2 separate regions of the Homo sapiens genome follow, and region 2 is linked to region 1. Evidence: fine-mapped expression QTL. Tissue or cell type: whole blood. Region 1 holds a variant in brackets; the other region holds the start of a gene. All regions are shown on one strand. Distances are from middle to middle.

What was found. PIP is the estimated chance that this variant, and not a neighbour inherited with it, causes the effect.
Region 2: ENTPD1 starts here. The variant in region 1 is fine-mapped to the expression of ENTPD1 in whole blood (INTERVAL, PIP above 0.99).

What each region holds. Positions count from the first base shown.
Region 1 is chr10:95,299,385-95,302,148 of GRCh38, reverse strand. No RefSeq gene overlaps it. Among named protein-coding and RNA genes, the nearest start is that of PDLIM1, 9.8 kb to the right of the region's middle. The variant C/T (reference allele first, on the strand shown) is at 1,658.
Region 2 is chr10:95,754,967-95,757,577 of GRCh38, reverse strand. It overlaps ENTPD1 (ectonucleoside triphosphate diphosphohydrolase 1), which reads right to left and starts at 1,415. Exons shown (of 10, transcript NM_001776.6): 1 at 1,323-1,415. The coding sequence starts at 1,338. It overlaps ENTPD1-AS1 (ENTPD1 antisense RNA 1), which reads left to right. Exons shown (of 6, transcript NR_038444.1): 6 at 864-2,611. RefSeq lists a silencer at 165-224 and an enhancer at 1,555-1,854.

The DNA of each region.
Region 1 (2,764 bases):
CATGATCTTGGCTCACTACAACCTCTGCCTCAGAGGTTCAAGTGATTCTCCTGCCTCATCCTCCCAAGTAGCTGGGACTACAGGCTCATACCACCACGTCTGGCTAATCTTTTGTATTTTTAGTAGAGACGGGGTTTCATCATGTTAGCCAGGATGGTCTTGATCTCCTGACCTCGTGATTCACCTGCTTCAGCCTCCCAAAGTGCTGGGATTACAGTCGTAAGCCACTGTGCCCGGCCTATTTATTTATTATCTGTATGCATTACGGATTTTTATTTTCTCCAGTGGGTTATAATTCCTTTTATAATTATATATATGTATATAAATAATGGGCTGGGCGCAGTGTCTATGAGGCAGGTGGATCACTTGAGGTCAGGGGTACGATACCAGCCTGGCCAACATGGCAAAACCTTATCTCTACTAAAAATACAAAAATTAGCCAGGCATTGTGGTGTACACCTGTAGGTCCCAGCTACTTGGGAGGCTGAGGCACGAGAATTGCTTGAACCTGGGAGGTGGAGGTTGCAGTAAGCCAAGATTGTACCACTGTACTCCAGCATGGGAGAGAGGGAGACTCTGCCTCAAAAAAATAAAAAATAATAAAAAACATTTTGTTTGGGAATAAATTCAAGACTACAGAAAAGTTACAAGAATAAGGACGGTACAAAGAGCATCCATATGTCCTTTACCAAGATCCCCCTTTTGTTAACATTTTATCCCATTTGCTTCATTTACTCCCTATGCCCATCCTGACCTCAACACACACACTCACATACACAAACATTTTTCTGAACCATTTGAGAATAAATTATACATATTGTGGCACTTTATCTCTAAATACTTCAGTGTGAATTTCCTAAGGATAGAGATACTATCTTACATAACCACAGTCCAGTTATCAACCAGTAAATTTAACATTGATACAATACTTTTATCTAATCCTCCATCTGTTTCCAATTTCATCAATTGATCCAATAACGTCTGTTTTTTTTTGTTTTTTGAGATGGAGTCTTGCTCTGTCACCCAGGCTGGAGTGTAGTTGGGAGATCTCAGCTCACTGCAACCTCCATCTCCCAGGTTCAAGCAATTCTCCTGCCTCAGCCTCCTAAGTAGCCGGGACTACAGCCCCTGCTACCACTCCTGACTAATTTTCGTATTTTCAGTAGAGACAGGGTTTCACCATGCTGGCCAGGCTGGTCTCGAACTCCTGAACTTAAGCAATGCTTGGCACGATTTCTGCTCATTGCTGCCTCAACCTCCTAGGCTCAAGTGATCCTCCCACCTCAGCCTCCTGAGTAGCTGGGACTACAGGTATGTGCCACCACATCCAGCTCATTTTTGTATTTTTAGTGGAGACAGGGTTTTGCCAAGTTGGTCAGGCTGGCCTTGAACTCCTGGGCTCAAGTGATCTGCCTGCCTTGGCCTCCCAAAGTGCTGGGATCACAGGCCTAAGCCACTGTGCCCAGCCTATTCTCCTTTAATCTGAAACGTAGCTACAGCCTTTCTTTGTCTCAGGACATTGTCTTTTTGAAGACTATAGTTCCACCCACACTCAGTTTTATTAATAGGGGGTTGTCTGATATTTCCCTATGATTAGATTCAGGTTATGCATTCCTTCCTGGAAGGTAACGTATGAGGTGTGTCCTTATCAAAGTAT[C/T]ATATCTGAGTTACACGATGTTCTTCTGCCCCTCACTGGGGATGTTAATTTTGATCTCCTGGTAAGGTATTGTTGGAATTTGCCATGTATCATACTATAGTCCATGCTATGGTTTGAATGTGTCCCCTCCCAAACTCAGGTGTTGAAACTTAATGGCCAGTGTGATAGTATTAAGAGATGGGGCCTTTAATAAGTGATTAGGTTATGAGGCGCCTTCCCTCATGAATGAGATTAAGGCCCTTATAAAAGAGGCTTCACACAGAGTGTGGTTCTCTTGGCCTTCTGCCATGTAAGGACATAGTGTTTCTCCCCCTCAGCCTTCAGAACTGTGAGAAAATAAATTTCTGTTCTTTATAAATTACCTAGTCTCAGGTATTGTGCTATAGCAGTACAAACAGACTAAGACAGAAAGAATGTTGTGTCCCCCCTCAAAGTTCATATGTTGAAATCTAACCCCCCAAGTGGGGCCTTTGGGAGATGATTAGATCATAAAGGCTCCATCCTTTTTTTTTTTCTGTTTTCTTTTTTTTTTTTTTTGAGACGGAGTCTCGCTCTGTCGCCCAGGTTGGAGTGCAGTGACGTGATCTCGGCTCACTGCAACCTCCGTCTCCCGGGTTCAAGCGATTCTCCTGCCTCAGCCTCCTGAGCTGGGATTACAGGTGTGCACCACCATGCCTGGCAAATTTTTGGATTTTTAGTAGAGATGGGGTTTCAACATGTTGGTCAGGTTGGTCTCGAACTCCTGACCTCGTGATCCGCCTGCCTCAGCCTCCCAAAGTGGTGGAATTACAGGTGTGAGCCACCACGCCTGGCAGCTCCATCCTTATAATGGAATTAGTGCCCTTGTAAAAGAGGCCCAAGGGAGCTTGTTCGCCTCTTCCACCATTTGAGGACACGGCAAGAAGATGCTATGTATGAGAAAGTGGACCCTTACATGATAATCCCCTAGTGCCTTGATCTTGGACTTCTCAGCCTCCAGAACTGTGAAAAATAAATTTCCTTTGTTTATAAGCTAAACAGTCTATGGTATTTTTGTTAGAGCAGCCCCAACAGACTAAGACACATCATTGTTGTTTTTTCCTTTGCATCAAATAAGCAATCTGTAGG
Region 2 (2,611 bases), 460 kb before region 1:
GTATGTGAACTTGAGTGCAAAGTACAAATTCCTTCACAGACTTAAGATTTTACCAGTATCACTTCCCCAGTAGCTTCAAGGATTTGCAAACCTGAAATCCACAATGTCAGGGCACCAGAAAAAGCAGAGAAACAGTATTGGGGAGTGGAAAAGCCCACCAGCCCTGCCTCAGACCACCTCCATCCACACTCAGCCCTTACTAACTATGAGATCTCAAGGCAAGTTATCCTCTCAGTACCTCAATTATGCCATCTGGAAAATGGGAATGTCAATGATAGCACTTGTAAGGTTCATGTGACAAGTAAGTAGCACATGTAATATGCTAGGTATAGCTCCCAACACAGAATAAAGACTTAGTCAACATTAACAGCTATCATTATTGTAAGTATTAAGAAATATGTTGGCTACTCATGCTATTCTTCCATGTTCTATACGGTATAAGCATGTGGGAATGTTAGAAGTTAGAGATGATAAAGAAGGAGGAGAAGGAGGTTTACAACCCTATACTCCCTCACTGCTGCAGAGATTCTTCCTGGCTCTCACACGCTGGCAAGCAGCTGGCTCTCCGTCTTGGCAGAAAATGCCCAAAAGAGGTAAAAGATAGAGACTGCACACCATCTGTGCAAACCAGGCTGCTCTTGTAGTTTTTAGACAAAATCTAAATGTAGTCAGATGTGACCTGCCCTTTTAAGATAGAATTATTCTATTTCCTCCCTCTACCCGTCCCCGTCCCCCACTCTGTCCCCCACATAAAACTCCCCCACATATCTCAAGAAACTTTCAGCATTTTGAAAGACATACTCTGGGGTCCTGTTGTGACAGCCTTGTGCCACATTAACTTCTCTGTCTTGTTCCCAGCAAAGAAGCCTTTGCTAATTTCACAACAGGAAAGCATGCAAGAAATTCGAGAACAAAACAAATCTACACGCAGAGCCCAGCATCTTCAAGCAAACACCCTGAGGTACAGACCCGAGGCTAGATGAGTCCGGACTGCAGATGAGGCAGCTGCCTCTTAAACTGCAAGGGGACTGAAAAAGTCATTTGCCTCTAAAAAAACCAACTCTGAATACAAATTGATAATGAATATTCATGAGCCCCTCCAGCTTGCTCTAGAGCCACCCTTGACTGCAACCCTGGACTCTGCTTCCTAAAAAGTTTCCCAAAGCTCTTTCTCTGCCTCCTCTCAGAAGGAAGAGGGTGGGAAAGTTCATTCAGGGCTTTTTGCCTCCAGCTTTCAAGTACTTGCTTTTTGGTCTGGGCTTTTATTTTTCCTTCTATTTTTTTTTTCTTAAGGATTCAGATCAAATCAATTTTGGTCTTACCCTTTGTATCTTCCATAAGTAGCAGCTTTTGTTTTCCTCCTCTTTCCTCGTCTTTCCCCCCCCCAGCCTCTGCTTGCTGTGGTCCGTCTCCGTGAGAGAGGTCCTCAAGGAAACAGAGATATAACAGACCCTTGGGCTCGTGGGAGGGGCTAAATTAGCCGGCCCCGTTTCGGAAGGAACCTCAAACCCTGTCTTTTTCATTGACTAGAAAGGACAGATTGACTGAGGAGTCCAGCAGCTCATTTTCCTAAAGTTACTCGAAGCCTTTTCCAGGTTGTAATTTTTTGCATCCTTGAAGCAATGTATATTCAAATCTCTCTCTCTTTCTCCCTTCTTCCCTCTCTCCCTTACTCCCTCCCTCTTCATCTCTCTCTCCCTCTCTTCGTTATAGAAATCCCTTTTTCTCCCTTGAAAAAGTCATCTCAGCTGCAAGCAAAAAAAGCTATTCCTTACTGCAATTATGAAGCTAGATAATAAGAAAGTTGTTACCTTGAAACCCGCTCGAAAAACTGAAAGTCAAGAACAGTTCTTCCCTCCCCATAAAGCCTCTGGTCCCATGACCAGCAATCCTTTCTCAAGGCTCATTAGAGCAAAGAGCAACAGGTGACCCAAGCGATGAGTTTCCTGCAGGAGACGCTGCGTTATTGGTTGGAAGGCTGGGTGGAACCACAGAGGAGCTGCTCAATGGGAACCGCTGCCTGGCTATGAATTGATGAAAGTCATCCACCATTTCCCAACTTTGACTTCCTACCTTTGAAGTCTAATGAGCATGAATTACCACATCCAGACCGTCAAGATTACCCCAATGTAGATGAGAGCCTGACCAAATTATTTTTAAACTGTGTAACAAAATTATTTTGAAATCAAAACAAGGGCTAATCCTTTGAAAGGAAGGTAAGTCCTCAAGTCCCAAGGCGACTTGGCAGCTTCTCCCTCCACAAGGCTGTTGCAAACCTTAGCATTTCAGGTCTGAAAGATACCTCAGACATTGAGTCTAAAAGAGGTTAGAGATGTGGAGAGGTTAAGCCACCTGCTCATGCTCACATACATGGTCTCTCTTATTTGCTACCATGTTCCCCAGCACCTAATACAGTTTCTCTCACAGCATGGGCTCTCAATAAATATTTGATGAATGGTTGAAAAAAATGAATGAATTGCAGCAAAGCAGAAATGTAGATCTGTTTTCCTGTTTCCTAGTTCTTGATTTTTCTACATTGCTTGTCTGGCATGTAAATTTGTATCTAAAGCCAGTTATACCATATAAATCATTAAATTTGTGAGCCCGAAGG